4 linked regions of the Homo sapiens genome follow. The protein of the gene in region 1 interacts with the protein of each later gene in a biochemical or structural test. Each region holds a gene or a part of one and is shown in the gene's direction. Other genes may lie near its edges.

Region 1 (4,844 bases):
TATATACCAAAAATGGTGCTAGGTATTTTTTTTTTTTTTTTTTTTTTTGAGATGGAGTTTCGCTCTTTCACCCAGGCTAGAGTGCAGTGGTGCGATCTCGGTTCACTGCAAGCTCTACCTCCCGGGTTCATGCCATTCTCCTGCCTCAGCCTCCCAAGTAGCTGGGACTATAGGCACCCGCCACCACACCCAGCTTTTTTTTTTTTTTTGTATTTTTAGTAGAGATGGGGTTTCACCGTGTTAGCCAGGATGGTCTCGATCTCCTGACCTCGTGATCCGCCCGCTTCGGCCTCCCAAAGTGCAGTGATTACAGGCATGAGCCACCACGCTCGGCCAGCAATTTTATATTCATTATCTTGTTAAGTCCTCATCATGACCTCATAAGGTATATGTTACAATTTCACAGATTAGGAAGCTAAGTACAGATATCTTAGCTTGCTAACATGTTCCTGCTGAGGATATATGGGAGAGTCTGGCCTTACCTTATTCTGCCTGACTCCAAAAGCATGGTCTTTTCCTTACACTGTGCTGTCCCCATGCACACGGGAGGAATGGTTACAATCTAGGGCAGCGCTCCTCTCTAGAAAGGACCAGTCTTGTAAGAACCCTCTGGGCTGGGGTTGAACCACACTCTATATTCCAGCAGTGCCAGAAGCTCAGCCTAATCTGCACCTGGATCTCGGGAGGGCAGGGATGGAGGTGGCTGAGGAACTACCTGCTTCTACTTGGGTGTCAAGGGTCAACTAGCAGCATCTCCAGGGCCAGATATTGAGCCAGATGGTCAGCATTTCCCTCTGGCAGTTGGCAGAGGGTTATTAAAGTTACCTTTTTCTTCTTCCCTCCTAGGTTGTGGATCTGGTCAGAAAGAGTGGGAATTCAGTGACTTTACTAGTTCTGGATGGGGATTCCTATGAGAAAGCAGTGAAAACACGGGTGGACTTGAAAGAGTTGGGTCAAAGTCAGAAGGAGCAAGGTTTGAGTGATAATATACTTTCCCCTGTGATGAATGGAGGTGTGCAAACTTGGACCCAGCCCCGGCTCTGCTATCTCGTGAAGGAAGGAGGCAGCTATGGCTTCTCTCTGAAAACTGTCCAAGGTGAGAATTTTTTGGGGAGCAGGGGGAGGCAGGGGCAGGGCACAGACAACAGGCTTCCAGAACAAAGATGCTACTGGTTAATGACTTTTCTTCTTTGACTGACTTTTCAGTTGCTATAGATAGCTTGCAACAGCTTGCCTCCCTCCGTCTCTCACTCCCTCCCTGCCCTTTCCCTTGCCTTGCACAGTTGTGCAATGGGGGAGGGACACTGGACAGCAGTGGGGGTGGGGGGCACTGGGTACTCCTGTCCCTGAGTGTTTGTCAGGCTGGCACTTGAGGACTCTTTGAGGTCAGGGGGCCAGAGGGTTGATGCTTCTAGCCCTCTTAGGGTGAAAATGAAGGGCAGAATAAGGAATAAAAGGCAAGAAAAATGAGATTCTTCATAATAGCTATTTTTGAGTAAGATTGGTATCTTTTTTTTATCTGAGTGCCCAGATAGTCATTCATTTATTCAACAAATTCTTGAGCACCTGCTGATGTGCCAGGCACTGTTACCTTTGCTGAGAATACCGCAAAAATTTCCACCCTCCTGTAACATTTTGATAGTACCCTCAGCTGCGGCTCAGCCCCACCTGTTCTGAGGCGCATCTTTGAGCTCTGGCTAAGAGGTACATAGTGATTTGAGAAACCCTGACCATCAGGAAGCACCAGAAGTTCTATTTCTAGAATTTCAGAGGTGCAGACTAACCTGTGTTCAGTTGACCGTGGCTCTGGGGTATTGGTTGGAACCAGAGGAGCTGTGTTAGCTGGTCAATTCCTTCTTGAACACTGCCTCTGCCTATGTTCTTTCTGGGGCTGGAGAAGCACTGGTGGTAGGTCATGATTTGGCAAGTGATACAGCAGCAGACCAGTGGTAAATTTAAAATAGTTTCTAAGGCTTATTTAACCTGTACCAAGAGATGTAAACTCACGATAAGGGGTATTTCTCAGGTCTGTCAGTTATTAAACACAGTGGTGTGTATAGTCAAAGGAAGCTTGGCACGTCTTAGAAGCCTATTATCAGTAAAGTGGTAAAAAAAAGAAAATCATAATTCAGATTCTACTCATCTGGCTCATGTGCTAATGCACATGGTGAATGGTTTAGGTTAGCTTTATGAGGAAAATGGTCTCTTCATGACAAATATATAACAAGGTAGCAGGAGAAATGCTGAGTGTTTAAGGAAGCAGAGTTTAAGTTATTGTCATTCCTTACAAGTGATTTATGTAGTCATTAGCAAGCGATCCCTTGCCTAGGTTGACATACAAGAGTCCCCCCTTATCCTGTTTGGCTTTCCATAGTTTCAGTTACCTTACCTGCAGGCAACTGTGGTCTGAAAATATTAAATGGAAAATTCCATACATAATTTTTGCATTGTGAACCATTATGAGTAGTGTAATGAAATCTTGTGCTGTCCTGCCCCGTCTTGGACATGAATCCTCTGTTTGTCTAGCATCTCCACGTGGCATGTGCTTACCTGCCTGTTAGTCTTACTACTTACTACTCAGTTACCAGGTCAACTGTCACGGTATTAAAGTACTGTGTTCAAATAATCCTTATTTTGCTTAATAATGGCCCAGCACAGAAAGAAAAATATCACATATTCTCATATGTGGGAGCTAAAAAAGGTGAATCTCATGGAGGTAGAGAGTAGAATGAGAGATACCAGCAGCTGGGAAGGGTATGTGTGTGGGGTAGGGTGGGGATGAAGAGAGCTAGGTTAATGGGTACAAACCCACAGAGAGAAGGAATAAGTTCTAATGTTTGATAGCACAGTGGGGTGACTGTAGTTAACAACAATGTATTGTACATTTCAAAATAGCTGTAAGAAGATTTGAAATATTCTCAACACAAAGAAATGATAAATGTTCAAGGATGGATGTCCTAAATATTACACCCTGATTTGTTCATTATATGCTCTTGGTATCAAAATATGACACACACCCTATAAATATGTACAAATGTTATGTATCAATAAAAAATAATAGCTCAGGCCGGGCGCAGTGGCTCACGCCTGTAATCCCAGCACTTTGGGAGGCCGAGGCGGGCAGATCATGAGGTCAGGAGATCGAGACCATCCTGGCTAACACGGTGAAACCCTGTCTCTACTAAAAATACAAAAAATTAGCCGGGTGTGGTGGTGGGCGCCTGTAGTCCCAGCTACTCAGGAGGCTGAGGCAGGAGAATGGTGTGAACCCGGGAGGCGGAGGTTGCAGTGAGCTCAGATTGCGCCACTGCACTCCAGGCTGGGCGATAAAGCAAGACTCCGTCTCAAAAAAAAAAAAAAAAAAAGCCAAAAATGCAAGGATAGTGATGCTGGCAGTTCAGATATGACAAAGAGAAGCTGTAAAGTGGCCGGGCACAGTGGCTCATATCTGTAATCCTAGCGCTTTGAGAGTGCGAGGCGAGTGGATTACCTGAGGTCAGGAGTTCGAGACAAGCCTGGCCAACATGGCGAAACCCCATCTCTACTAAAAATACAAAAATTAGCCAGGCGCGGTGGCAGGCGCCTGTAGTCCCAGCTACTCGAGAGGCTGAGGCAGGAGAATCGCTTGAACCGGGGAGGCAGAGGTTGCTGTGAGCCAAGATTGCGGCCCTGCGTTCCAGCCTAGGTGACAGAGCGAGACTCCATCTGTTAAAAAAAAAAAAAAAAAGGCTGTAAAGTGCTTCTATTAAGTGAAAAGTTCTCGATTTAATAAGGAAAGAAAAAATACTGTATGCTGAGGTTGCTAAGATTAGCTCAGTTATTGTTAATCTCTTACTGTGCCTAATTTATAAGTTAAACTCTATTGTAGGTATGTAAGCACAGGAAAAAACATATAGGGTTCGGTATACTATCTTAAAGTTTCAGGCCTCCACTGGGGGTCTTGGAATGTATCCCCCATGGTTAAGGGGGAACTGCTCTATTAATATCTTTGAAGAATTGACAGCATTTCTATAAGTAGCACCTAAATCTCACCACCTAAATGCATTCGGGTTCTTCCCTCCCTCCTGTGCCTGTCCTTGTTAGCCTACATTGGTGAGATGACTCCACAGCATACGATGGCTAATATAATAGTACAAACTGAAGAGGAGAGAATGGTAAAGATGCTTTCTGATTCTACAAATGCAAAGAAAGGGCGTATGACACAATAATGCAGTGTGGGCATGTTTTAGCGCTTTCTGGTTCAAGGGGCCAAGGCCACCCAAGATTCCATCTTTGCATTTAGCTGACCTCAGAAATTCTATTCAAATCAACAAATACCCACTGAGTAAAGGCTGTGTCAAGTTCAGTGCCAGGACCTATAACTGTGATTTTAGATCAGAAGCCAAAGGCCGAGTTAGCTCTAAAATCGGAAGTTTGTTTCACATTATTGGGAGAAAAGTCTTTACCATTGGATTTCGAGTTTTTCTTTGCAATGGAGTGTTCTGTGAAAGGGTGGTGTATGCAAAGCAGTCCCTCAAAGGCCAAAGGAGCTGAGAAACCAAAGGACAAGGCAGGCAAATCCAGTTTGTTGGTACATTGGAATTTATCAGGGGAACTTACGAACAGAAGCATGGTCTTGGACAGCCACAAAACATGTAGATCTCTGTGTTACTCCCCAGACCCAAGGCTGATATACCATAGGGAAAGGGTATATGTGCTCCAGCAAGACAATCGAAGGCAGCCCTCCGCAATAGCCAAGAATGCTATAGTGCATCATAGCCTATAATTTGCGTGATAACATTAAGGTTGACATGTTCTTAGACTAGGGACAGTAAATGAAGTAGAAATCGGGAGGCAATCACAGG
Region 2 (4,172 bases), on another chromosome or scaffold:
GGCAATGTGACATGAGTGGTGATATTTTTATCTTAATAAGTGACTTTCTCAACAAGTCTTGAGCATCCAATCCATGAAACCAAAATGAATATGAAATGCTTATTAATAAAGGGACTGTTTCTCACTTAGGTTTTCTACTCATTTTCCTATCACATTGATTTTAAGAAGTTCTTTGTCAAACTGACTTCTTGGCTACCAGAAGTTTTAGACTCTATAGTAAGCTCTTAAAGAATATTAGATGTGCTTTGACTATTTTAAAAACAATATTATTCACTCTGTTCATTTGCCTCACTTCTGGCTGGGAGGAACACTCAGGGAATGATAAAGGTAGGAAAGCAGCTAAGCTGTAGACAGCCTAGATTGCTCTGCACTCTAATGGGGCGCTAGCAAAGTGACCTTCTTTTCCCAGTCCTGCCTGATTTGCAGGACTTCAAATGAGATGATGGAAATGGGGCAAGAAAATATGAATATGTAAACTACATGTATTGATTTCAACCAATGTCAAAGGAGAAGCAATAGAGTTTAGGTAGAAGCTGTCTTTAATATGCAGGCCAAAATCTTTTGTATGTGTTATAGTCCTCTTTGGCACATAAATTCCCTCATTTTTCCTCATATCATCCTCAAGGGGGGGATCTTGTGATCACATGTGATCCTGCTTCTTATTACGATAGAATACATTGTGCACACTTATTTATTTTTCATTGTAATATCCAGCACTATAAGGTGGAACTCTTTTGCCAGGGCATCAGGGAGTGATTATATATGGAGAAAACTTAACAATAACCTTTAATTCTGTCTCATCAGATTCCTCCTCCATGCTTGGCTGCCCTTACTTTTGTGGGTGAAAGAATGTAAATCATTCCAGAGTTCTGTCATTATTATTTTCTTGTTTTTTCTCCTTTTCCCTGAGGTCTAGCTGACCTGCATGTCTTTCCCTGAGATTGCTAATGTAAGCCTTTTGTTTCCACCAGATAGCTTGATGCCTATCCCCATTCATGTGCCATAGATTTCTTTTCTGGTTTATATTTTCCACTTAATACATGCATTTCGATAAGAAGTAAGATGATAATATGGATGTAATATGGACATAATATGTAGGCAACTTGGATATTCTGTGAAGAATGGGGAAATCATTAAGAAAAAGAAAAATATATTATTTATGATAACTACTGCAAGGCTATTGAAAGGTGAACAGCTAGATTAGCAACATTTAAAAAGCTGATGCTCTGGGAGTTAGGGAGAAGGAAGGGATAAACAGGATTTTTAGGGCAGTGAAAATGCTCTAAGTGATATGATAAGTGTATACATATCATTATACATTTGTTTAAGCCCACAGAATATACAATATTAAGAGTGAGCCTTAATGTAAACCATGGAATTTGGATGATAATAATGCATCATGTAGGTTCATGGATTGTAATAAATGTACCACTCTGGTGGGAGATATGATAATGGGGCAGGCTGTGCATGTGTCGGGGCAGAGAGATATGGGAAATAACTGTGCCTTCTGCTCAATTTTGCTGTGACTCTAAAACTGGTCTAAAAATATGTAGTCTATTTAAAAACAAACAAAAAGGTTCATGTTCATTAACATTTTAGAGGCATCCTGAAGATGAACTGAAATTTATATTTTCTGATTCAAGATGAGTGAATTAACCTATGTGGAAATTTGTGGATCTAAGAGAAATAACCTTTGTTACTTTATTCAGTAGTTACTCTTTTGATAAGCACTTAAAAAGCTATAAATTCAATTATTTATATTAGACTTCACTAACATTTGCTTCCCATTTACCTCTAGGTTTGAAGTTTGAGGAAATTCAAAAAAGATTTGGTGAAGAGTTCTTTAATATATGCTTTCATGAGAATGAGAGAGTCCTTCGAGCTGTAGGTGGCACTTTGCAGGACTTTTTTAACGGCTTTGATGCTTTGTTGGAACACATTAGAACTTCTTTTGGAAAACAGGCCACTCTGGAGTCACCATCTTTCCTATGCAAAGAGCTCCCTGAAGGTACTCTCATGCTCCACTACTTCCACCCTCACCATATTGTGGGGTTTGCAATGCTGGGGATGATTAAGGCTGCAGGAAAGAAGATCTATCGGCTGGATGTGGAAGTGGAACAGGTTGCAAATGAGAAGCTATGCTCTGATGTTTCAAACCCAGGCAATTGTAGCTGTCTTACTTTCCTTATCAAAGAATGTGAAAATACTAATATCATGAAGAACCTTCCACAGGGAACCTCCCAAGTTCCTGCGGACCTCAGAATTAGCATCAACACCTTCTGTAGAGCCTTCCCTTTCCACTTGATGTTTGATCCCAGCATGTCAGTCCTTCAGTTGGGGGAAGGTCTAAGGAAGCAGCTTCGATGTGACACTCACAAAGTGCTCAAGTTTGAGGACTGCTTCGAGATTGTATCTCCAAAGGTTAATGCCACCTTTGAAAGGGTCCTGCTGCGACTGTCTACCCCGTTTGTGATTAGAACCAAGCCTGAGGCTTCTGGCTCTGAAAATAAAGACAAGGTAAGTGCTATGGACTTGAGATGGTGATGGGAACTAGAAGAGTGGATAATTATTTCAGTAAATTACATGGTGGCTGTACTTGTAATTATTTAGGCAAGAGAGCTTAAAGTGCCATTTAGAAGATTACTGGTCCCTGGATGTATGTAAAAAGATTTGGCCTCATTCCCAGCCATTTTGCATAGTGTCTGCCTCCTCCATTAATTTATTTCAGCATATAAAAAGAAGACATTTATTAATACTAGCTATAGCAATTACAAAAATGATAGAACTCACTAAAAACCTGATAATATAAACACATGAATATTTCCACTGAATGTAGTCAAACTATGAGAAATATAGCATTTCAATATTGTGGGGCGTGACTGCAATATCTTTAAATACATATGCTAAAAGTTACCTTCACTTTGAATATGTTCTTTTCTAAATTTCATAATCTGGGAACATCTGGTTTACATCCTATTTTTGTCTTAATATGCAGAATAATGTATTCCCCAAAAGCTGAGAATTGACTATCTCGAGACTTCTGTTTAAATTTTAGTATTAAAATAGAGATTCATTGCTTTAGAACATGATCTCTAGTTGAGAGAATAAAGTGAAGACTAGGAAATTTTTTGTGGATTTCTTTGAATCCCCTTTGGGAAATCTGGATTATAAATTATAAATAATTGATGAAAAGACACCAGAAATAAATCTTAAAATATTTGGGTTTAAATGAACATTTTGTCCCTCAGGTAAAATATTTTAAAAAGTCAACATTAAAATAGATAATAAAATGTAAAGAAAAATAAACCATGATTTTTTATGTTTAGTAATATGCTTTCAGTGATTAAACGGAAAAACAACATTAATTTCCAGGACAGAAATTTGTATAGTTCCATTCAGTTTCCAGTAGAGTGTCTTTTCAACATTTTGTACTAGGGTAAATAAAGTTCTTTTAGGCTATTTAGCCTGTTTCCAAGCATTTGAGGGAAGCTATTAGCTATTAGAAATGACAGGTTGCTCTGGGCTAAAGGAAAGAAGAGTTGTAGAAGTAATTAAAGACTCAGTGAAAATATACATATTCTGGAATAATAATAAATAAATGAGGAAATAGCCCTCTGAAAGCAGCGCTTAACTTGTTTTTGAGGATTTTATACAGCATTAGTTTCATGATTGATGATTTTTATAATTTTGAAGTTCAATGGAAAGTTTTTTAAAAAAAATATTCGAGAAAGATGGCTGGGTGTGGTGGCTCACACCTGTAATCCCAACACTTTGGGAGGCCGAGGTGGGCAGATCGATCACCTGAGGTCAGGAGTTTGAGACCAGCCTGGCCAACATGATGAAACCCCATCTCTACCAAAAACACAAAAAAACGAGCTGGGCATGGTGGCGGGTGCCTGTAATCCCAGCTACTCAGGAGGCTGAGACAGGAGAATCGCTTGAACCCAGGAGGCAGAGGCTGCAGTGAGCTGAGATCATGCCACTGCACTCCAGCCTGGGTGACAAGAGTGAGACTCTGTCTCAAAAAAAAAATTATTTGAGAATGATAGAAAGATGCACATTTATTCAATATGACGAAATCAGGTGGTTTAGGAAATTAATAATGTTTTTATCATACAAGTTCAGTGATTTGAAAATATCTAAGGATAGACCTGGATTCCAGTTTGGCACAT
Region 3 (4,785 bases), on another chromosome or scaffold:
CTCGGGAATTTGGGCCTCTGATCCTCCTGGCCACACTACCCACCCCCGCACCTCCCCATACACACACACACACACACACACACACACACACACACACACACACACACACATACACACAGGACTTAGGACAGATGTTCACGGTCTGATTTCCAAATCCTCCTGGGCCTGTGTGGGGGTGGGGAGAGATTGGCAGATAGATCCACCGACTCTTAAGACTTAAGACCAGATATTCTGACCCCTGTCACCCTCTTCCAAGTGCACCATGCACTTGAGTGCACCTTGAGTCTCCAGCCTCTCAAGGAACCGGGAGATCAGGCCATCAGCGTCTCAGCCAGCAAAGGCCTGAACCACCAGTCCCTTATAACCCTGTAAGTCCAACCCCCACTCCCAACCCCACTCCCCCATTTAGGGACACGGAGTCTGAGCCTAAGAACAGTGGAGAATCTGAATGTGGACCCTCCAGTTCTTACAGGTCCAGGAATGTCAGATCAGGGTCCCAGCCCCCCAGCCCTCCTTCAGGCTGCTCGGGGTCCCTCCCACCTGCTCGGCCAGCTGCGCAGCGTGGGAACGCCCCAGCTGGGCTGCATGGAGCCGTCAGGACAAGCTGCGCGGTTCCCAGCCTCCCTGCCTGCCCCGGCCCGGCACCGCCGCCTCCCAGCCGTCGCCGGGCAACCAGGCCGAGGGGCCCGGCCGGCCGAGTGGGGAGAGGGGTTGGGCTGGGACTGCGGGGTCCTGGGAAAGGAGGGGCCGAGGGCCTGGATTCCTGGGTCTTAGGACGTGCTGTAGTTTGCAGCAATAACAAGGGAACAGAGGGATATTTTGAGGAGGGGTTTTGAGGCTGGGGGAGTCGAGGTAGGGGTCCCAACTGTCCCCCAGGTATCGGTGTGCCCTCTTCCCGACACGCAGGCCCGGGGGAGCCCCGGACCCCGCATCCCCCAGGGCGCGGAAACTGGCGAGGCCCCAGGAGCTCCCATTTATAGCTCAGTTTCCACTGAGCGCAGTCCCTCTAGGACCTGGGCTGAGCAAGTTTCTTCCACTCTCTCCCTTCCCTCCTCCTCACCCCTTGCCTGCCCCTCAACCCCGGCAGGGCGCAGGTGTCCAACCCAGCCGGGACCCCCTCCCTCCTCGAACCCAGGTGTTCCGGCTCCCAGACCCCAATTGAGCTGGGGGCGCCCACCCGCCGGGGGATCCCGCCCTGCGTCCCCCATTCATCCGCGTCTCAGCCGCGGGAGTTTCTCAACGGGAAGAGGGCGGAGCTCCCGGGGGGCGGACCCGGGCGGGGCGAGCGGGATCGGGCCCTCTTGGGGTCTCCCAGAGACCCAGGCCGCGGAACTGGCAGGCGTTTCAGAGCGTCAGAGGCTGCGGATGAGCAGACTTGGAGGACTCCAGGCCAGAGACTAGGCTGGGCGAAGAGTCGAGCGTGAAGGGGGCTCCGGGCCAGGGTGACAGGAGGCGTGCTTGAGAGGAAGAAGTTGACGGGAAGGCCAGTGCGACGGCAAATCTCGTGAACCTTGGGGGACGAATGCTCAGGATGCGGGTCCCCGCCCTCCTCGTCCTCCTCTTCTGCTTCAGAGGGAGAGCAGGTACCGCACGAGGGGAGCGGAGGAATATGGGGTGGGGGTGGGGAGTTGCTTGCGGGCTGCCTCTTCACTAGCGAGAAGGGAGCTGGGGGCTGGGACTCCTGGGTCCTGAATGAGGAGGCCCCTGAAGGTGCTAAGCTCAGCCCTGCTGCCCCGAACTCTCCTAGGCCCGTCGCCCCATTTCCTGCAACAGCCAGAGGACCTGGTGGTGCTGCTGGGGGAGGAAGCCCGGCTGCCGTGTGCTCTGGGCGCCTACTGGGGGCTAGTTCAGTGGACTAAGAGTGGGCTGGCCCTAGGGGGCCAAAGGGACCTACCAGGTAAGAGTGTTCTCTCCACGCTGGGACGGGCTGGCTAGGGGGAGAGTTGCTGGGCTCGGCTGTACCTGCAGTTTCTATTTTGACATTTTCAAGTTTGGGAAATTGATGGGCTCGGGTAAACATTTAGGAGTCCTGATTTTTGAGCTGCTTCTTTGGGGGTGACCCACGGAGTTTGGGAATTATTATGTTATTGCAAAATAGTACATAGGCCAGGTGCAGTGGCTCACGCCTGTAATCCCAACGCTTTGGGAGGTTGAGGCCAGAGGATCGCTTGAAACCAGGAGTTTGAGACCAGCCTGGGCAACATAACAAGACCTTATCTCTACACAAATGTATATATATATTTTAAACAAATTAGCCGGGTATGGTGGTGTGCATCTATAGTCCCAGTTACTCAGGAGGCTTAGGTGGTAGGATTGCTTGAGCCTAGGAGTTCAAGGCTGCAGTGAGCCATGATCAAGCCACTGCACTTCAGGCAATGGTGAGACCCTGTCTCAAAAAAAAAAAAAAAAGAGAACATAAATGCAAAAAAGTACAGTAAATATAAATGGAAGATTTACCAAATAAAATAGACACACACAGCCAATACCCAAGTCCATTGCTAGCTCCCCAGAAGACCCCGTGTTCCTTTCCCCTATCATAGCCCCCTCCCCCTCACTCCAGAAGTAGTATCTAACCTAATTTTTATGGCAATCATTTTCTTGCTTTCCTTCCTGACTTTATTACCCCTAAGTTTGCAGTGACTCTGGGTTGGGAGGGAGTTAGAGTCTCTCTGGGCCCAGTACACACTTTTTAATAGTGTCTTACCACCAAATGTGTGGGCCAGTTTTCTGGTGGAGGATGTCTGGGGATGGAGGCCTGAGGCCAGGATTTCAGAACCATGGTGTGCTGACTGCCTTCTCCCTGACTCCAGGGTGGTCCCGGTACTGGATATCAGGGAATGCAGCCAATGGCCAGCATGACCTCCACATTAGGCCCGTGGAGCTAGAGGATGAAGCATCATATGAATGTCAGGCTACACAAGCAGGCCTCCGCTCCAGACCAGCCCAACTGCACGTGCTGGGTAAGGACCTCGCCCACTTGTCCCCTGGGAGCCCAAGAGGGCAGCCCGTACTAGCTGTGAGTAGCAGAGCCCAGGGAGCCCAGGGGCATGGTCAATTGGAGCTGAGAAGATCAGGATCCATCTCTGACCCCAAATCCACCTTGCAGTCCCCCCAGAAGCCCCCCAGGTGCTGGGCGGCCCCTCTGTGTCTCTGGTTGCTGGAGTTCCTGCGAACCTGACATGTCGGAGCCGTGGGGATGCCCGCCCTACCCCTGAATTGCTGTGGTTCCGAGATGGGGTCCTGTTGGATGGAGCCACCTTCCATCAGGTCAGGTCCAAATTCCTGTGCTAGCCTTTGCCCATTGAGGGAAACTTGGGTTACACTCTGACCACAGGCTCATCCAGAAGAGAAGAAGACATGGGAGGGCAGAGGTTCATGGGTTTGGACTCTTGAAATATGATGCAGGGTAAAGATTCTAGGGCCAGACTACCTGGGTTCAAATTATGTCTCAGCCACTTGCTAGTTGATTGATCTTGAGTAAGTTAGTTAACCTCTCTGTGCCTCAGTTGCCTTATCTATACAATCAGGATAATAGTAGCATGCATGTCATAGGGTATTGTGAGAATTAAATAAATAAATACCTATAAATGCCCAGAAGAGTGACCAATACATAGTGAGCACTATATAAGTAAGGCAAGCTTGTCCAACCTGCGGCCCATGGGCTGCATGCAGCCCAGGATGGCTTTGAATGTGGCCCACCACAAATTCATAAACTTTCTTAAAACATTATGAGACTTTTTTGTAATTTTTTAGCTCATCAGCTATCATTAGTGTTAGTATGTGTGGCCTAAGACAATTCTTCTTCCAATGTGGCCCAGGAAAGCCAAAAGATTGGACACCCCTGATGGGTAGATGGCATTATTATTCTTATCCTTCCCTCCAGACCCTGCTGAAGGAAGGGACCCCTGGGTCAGTGGAGAGCACCTTAACCCTGACCCCTTTCAGCCATGATGATGGAGCCACCTTTGTCTGCCGGGCCCGGAGCCAGGCCCTGCCCACAGGAAGAGACACAGCTATCACACTGAGCCTGCAGTGTGAGTGCAGCTGGCCCTGGGAAAGAGGGGTGTGGGGCCCTGACTCCTGGGTATGAGGAAGGAGGGGACTGTGGCCCTTGGGGAATGAGGAAACTGGAGCCTGGACTCCTGGATCTAAGATAGCAGGAGAGGGCTGGGTATGGTAGCTCACGCCTGTACTCACAGAACTTTGGGAGGTCGAGGCAGGCGGATCATCTAAGATCAGGAGTTCGAGACCAGTCTGGCTAACATGTCGAAACCCCGTCTCTACTAAAAATACAAAAATTTGCCGGGCGTGGTAGCACACACTTGTAATTCCAGCTACCTGGGAGGCTGAGGCAGGAGAATCACTTGTACCCGGGAGGCAGATGTTGCGGTGAGCCGAGATCATGCCACTCAGCAGCAGAGTGAGACTCCGAGCAGGAGAGGACAGACAGCTGGGGTCCCTGGGGAAAGAGAAAGCTGGGCCTTGACTCTCACATCGGGGAGACTAGGAGAGGGCAGAAGGCTGGCACATTGAGGTAACTGGGGAAATTGGGAACTGAAAGCCCAGACTCCTGGCTCAAAGGGAGAAGGGGATTAGGGGCCCAGACTCCTGGGATGGAGGAACCAGGGACTGGACACCTAGGCCAGTGACGGAGGTGTTCCTGGTCCTTGCCCATCTGACCATTGTCCCACCCTCACAGACCCCCCAGAGGTGACTCTGTCTGCTTCGCCACACACTGTGCAGGAGGGAGAGAAGGTCATTTTCCTGTGCCAGGCCACAGCCCAG
Region 4 (4,172 bases), on another chromosome or scaffold:
TGATCAGGCAGGTCATCTTTATGCTGACACTTTTAAGTGCCTCACACTTAATGGTCTCTCCTTGAGGCATATTAGAGTCACTGCTGTTTACCCCTGATCATAGCTGTTTGTAACAATCGATGCGGGGAAAATGCTCTCACTCACTCTGCGCTGTCTTTGGACCTCTGCTTAGCTCCCAGGACCCCCATCACTCTTCCACAGCAGCACACACATGTCTTTGCTGTTGCCCTTCCTGGAGCTGCAGAGGAGGACAACCTAGATCCTGTTCCTGCCAGTATTTGGGTGACAAAGTTTCCTGGGGATGCAGAGACTCTGTCCCAACCATCTTCACACACAGCCACTGAAGGCAGCATCAACCAGCAACCCAGCGGGGACAGCAATCCCACCCTAGAGCCGTCCCTGGAGGTCCACAGGCTGGAGAGGCTCGTGGCCCTCAAGAGAGTCTCCTCAGAGAGCTTTGCTTCCAGCCTTAGCACCCATCACAGGTAAGGGTGATGGGTGGGCCATTCAGGACAGGTGATGGGACTAGGATGAACACTGGAGTGCATCATGTGGAGTCTGACAAAAAAGATCTCAGCCATATTTTTTCTTAAGTGTGTGAAAAACCCAGGATGTAGCAGGGCTACTTGTCAGAAGGACTGGGTATGTTAATTACCCAGGGAAATTATTTTCTTGGATGGGGTGAGATCTCTGAGGTGCTGTTATAAGTAAAACTTTAAAAGTGACTTTTTATATTTTAAATATATTTATAATAACAACATAGAAATGTATATTTTATATAAAATAATAAGCGACAGCATTTGGTGAGTTCTTTGCCACCATTCTCACTCATCTCTCCCCTTCCTCTTCTCTATGGTTCCTGACTCCAAAATCAGAAGTTTTTCAAGTGAATCTGTTGCCATCTGCATACACAACTGTGGTAGGAAACATTGCTTTTTGGTCCAAAACTTAATGACCTGTTTTCAGCCCTTCCATTCTTCCCTTTAGAACTCAGGATGATCCCAGCTTTGATTCACTGGAAACTTGCCTGTCCTCAGATGGGGGTGAACAGGTAAGAACCTGAACTGTGAAGTGGGCTTGTGACTGGTATTTTGATCCTAGAATGGTCAGTTTCAGGCTGGGAAATCAGAGCTATTAGACTAGTAGCCAAAGTTAGAGAGAAGAAGGCAAAGTACAATATACACACAGTGTCTTTCTACTAATCAATACCTTTCCATTATATGCAGTGTCTCTGAAGTGATCGGCAATTGTAGAAATTGATGTTTTAGTGACTTGTCTTCTCACTTAGCCACAGTTAATAATTACTCTCTTCTCTCCTCCTCTATCCCTCCTTCATAACATTGACCTCAAAATGCCATGTATGGTCCCAGAAGTTAGATCAATGGTCAATATAAAATATAAATGCCCACTGATTTACTATTCCTTTGAAGTCTTAGAAGGAACACAAAATAAAACAAGGTGTAATGTTCTTACTTACATTTCTCAGAACCTACAGTGAGGTTAAATGGTCCCTCTTGCATGGGTCCTATCATAAGAAGACACACTCAAATCTCTCAGCCATAGAAGATGATGCAATCACCCATTGATATTTTGGTTTGGAAGCCACTTAAAGGACCCTAAGCTTATTCTTGTAACTGGCTTCCTTGTTCTCTGTGGGGTTTCCATTAGCTACCCCATCCCCATCAATAACAAGTGCATTTGTATCTAGTTGGGCATTTTACTTTGAGCTCCTTTAGTAGCAAGAAAGAGACTGGGTTTTTAGCTGCCTCCTGGGAGTCTTTAAGGAACCCCAGTTAGTTACAAAGTTCAGTGGCAGCTTAGGAGGAAGACCAGTACCTTTGACTCTTTTTTCCCTTTGTTTTTCTAGGACAAGACGAAGGCCTCTAACAGGACCGTGACACAGCCTCCTCTGTCCACCGTCCAGCTTACCTATCCCCAGTGCCTCTGGTCCTCTGAAACTTTCACAGGGAATGGGGTCAGGGCAAGCAACCCAATCCCTGTCCTCCAGACCTCTGGCACTTCTGGGCTACCTGCTGCTGGTGACCAGTCAGAGGCATCCAGGGCCTCTGCCAGCTTCTTACCTCAGTCAAAGCACAAGGAGCTCAGAGCAGGGAAGGGAAATGGAGAGGGTGGAGTGGGATACCCTCGGCAGACCAACCCACGGCCTGACATTGGGCTAGAGGGAGCCCAGGCCCCTCTGGGTATCCAGCTCAGAACTCCTCAGCTGGGAATTCTGCTTTGCCTGTCAGCCACCCTGGGCATGGCCCTGGCCGCTGGCCTTCGCTACCTGCACACCCAGTATTGCCACCAGCAGACAGAAGTGTCTTTCAGTGAGCCCGCTTCGGATGCTGTTGCCAGGAGCAACAGTGGTGAGACTGTGCACGTCAGGAAGATTGGGGAGAACAGTTTTGTTTTGGTTCAAGCAGAGTACAACTGGATCACTCCTTCTGTGGGTAGCAAGAAAACAGTCCTCTGAGAAGACTGTCACCCCAGACCTCTCAGTGGCCCTCCTTGGGCCCTGGAGAGTGTCCCAGACAGAGCAGAGATAATGAGAATAACTGATGAAGACAGGGACTCATTGTGCCTCTGTCAATGTGCAGTTAGTGGAGGAACCCGGGAGAGGACACTTTCATCAACAGAGGGAGTTATTCCTGAGCTTTGTTGTCTTAACATCTGTAATTGGGCTTCCTTCTTTCTTTTTGCAATTAGACGTTCTGTTTGAAGACTTAAACTCAACACAATGAATATTGTATAACCCGCTCATTAACTAGACCCCTGTGGCCACTAAGCTTCCTCTGTTGTGGTAAGGAAGCCATAGAAATAAAAATACTGTCCCTCCTTAGTGTCTCATCTCTTCTAACTCTTTGGGGAAAAAAAGTAATGTTGGGTTGTGTCTCCTGCAAGAAAAAGAACTGCAGCTCTCACTTTGCCTTCCTAAACCACCCCCAAAGAAGTTTTCTTTTCAAAACTGAATTCAACAACTTGCTAGAGTTCTGATTTGGATGACTAGGTGAATGCAAGGGTATTTGGTCTTCTGGGCAACTCAGCAGCCTGGCAAATCCGCCATGGAAATTGATCCAAAGTCAGGAAAGTTTTTGAGAGCTTGATTGAACACATCTTCAGGAAAACATATACATGCAACACAAGGCCGTAAACACCAGAGTGGGGTAAGAAAGCCTTTTCATCAGGTGTAAATGGATCTGAGACCTCCCATCCATTTACACTTGATGGAAACATTCGTGTATCCCAACAGCTAGCAGACATAGTGCCTTTTGCCAAAGGTCAGGCTGAAAAACATTATTATACCAGCATAGTTTGAAGAACAGTCTTTACTTGTCTTTTCAGGGAATATCAGGAAGAAAGCTTCATGGATGAAGGTCATCTACCTGATCTCATAACCTTATGAAGATTGCTTTGATTTAACAGTGGCTCCACAGATACTATCTGAGGTCAAAACAACAGATCTGAATATAACTCTTAAATATGCTCACCTAATATAGCACATAGGAATTAGCTGCCTTTTCAGAGTGAAACCTATTATAGAGTCATCATTTTAATGCAGAAACAAAAATCACTACAAATTCGGAAAGGATATTTGTTTATTGAACACCTAATTCATACGGGAACTGTGCTAAGTAGTTTGCGTATATCTTCACATTTAACTCTCACAAAAATTTAATGAGGAATAAGTTCAGTAGCTTTCCAAGGAGAATGAGGCTTTCCTTATACCTCAATTTAACAATTTTTAAAAATTGAGTGTTCAGGAAAGAGACAGCTCCTGCCTTTTCCACACCTCGCTTTAGCTCATTGGTCATCAATTCCAAGACTCTCTCCTCCTGGATTCTGGGCTAGGTAGCTCTGTTCCCTGGCTTCAGCCATTAGATGCATGGAGACCTAGGTAATTTGTGCATTCACAAATGAAAGTGTTCTAGGAATACTGTGGAAAGAAACAAAAGTACTGTAGTCTAATAAGGCCACAGATATCCCTTCTGTATGTCTAGCCCTCTAAAAGACGTTCTCCCCAAGAAGCAAACAAGGGACCCCATTAGTGGAGAGCTTTCATCTGGCCACATCACATCAGAGCCAGATGCACCATGTATGCAAACTTTTTTAGATCTTTTCTGTCTAAGAGAGAATTTTCCTATGTAAACAGACTGTTTTGCTTGTCTATT

Evidence for each region. The genes of interacting proteins can lie anywhere in the genome.
Region 2: the proteins of PDZK1 (region 1) and GUCY1A2 interact in a test that uses a peptide from one of them, tested with the Homo sapiens proteins (one large-scale study listed by IntAct).
Region 3: the proteins of PDZK1 (region 1) and KIRREL2 interact in a test that uses a peptide from one of them, tested with the Homo sapiens proteins (one large-scale study listed by IntAct).
Region 4: the proteins of PDZK1 (region 1) and REELD1 interact in a test that uses a peptide from one of them, tested with the Homo sapiens proteins (one large-scale study listed by IntAct).

What each region holds. Positions count from the first base shown.
Region 1 is NC_000001.11:145,682,729-145,687,572, reverse strand, and holds part of PDZK1 (Na(+)/H(+) exchange regulatory cofactor NHE-RF3), read left to right. Parts: intron 1-846; coding exon 847-1,096; intron 1,097-4,844. UniProt on the Homo sapiens protein: A scaffold protein that connects plasma membrane proteins and regulatory components, regulating their surface expression in epithelial cells apical domains.
Region 2 is NC_000011.10:106,937,805-106,941,976, reverse strand, and holds part of GUCY1A2 (guanylate cyclase soluble subunit alpha-2), read left to right. Parts: intron 1-1,798; coding exon 1,799-2,517; intron 2,518-4,172. UniProt on the Homo sapiens protein: Has guanylyl cyclase on binding to the beta-1 subunit. Isoform 2 acts as a negative regulator of guanylyl cyclase activity as it forms non-functional heterodimers with the beta subunits.
Region 3 is NC_000019.10:35,855,598-35,860,382, forward strand, and holds the start of KIRREL2 (kin of IRRE-like protein 2 isoform c precursor), read left to right. Parts: upstream 1-1,313; 5' UTR 1,314-1,522; coding exon 1,523-1,583; intron 1,584-1,747; coding exon 1,748-1,897; intron 1,898-2,810; coding exon 2,811-2,960; intron 2,961-3,106; coding exon 3,107-3,267; intron 3,268-3,883; coding exon 3,884-4,034; intron 4,035-4,699; coding exon 4,700-4,785. UniProt on the Homo sapiens protein: May regulate basal insulin secretion.
Region 4 is NC_000004.12:146,228,038-146,232,209, forward strand, and holds part of REELD1 (reelin domain-containing protein 1 precursor), read left to right. Parts: intron 1-172; coding exon 173-485; intron 486-987; coding exon 988-1,051; intron 1,052-1,867; coding exon 1,868-2,476; 3' UTR 2,477-4,172.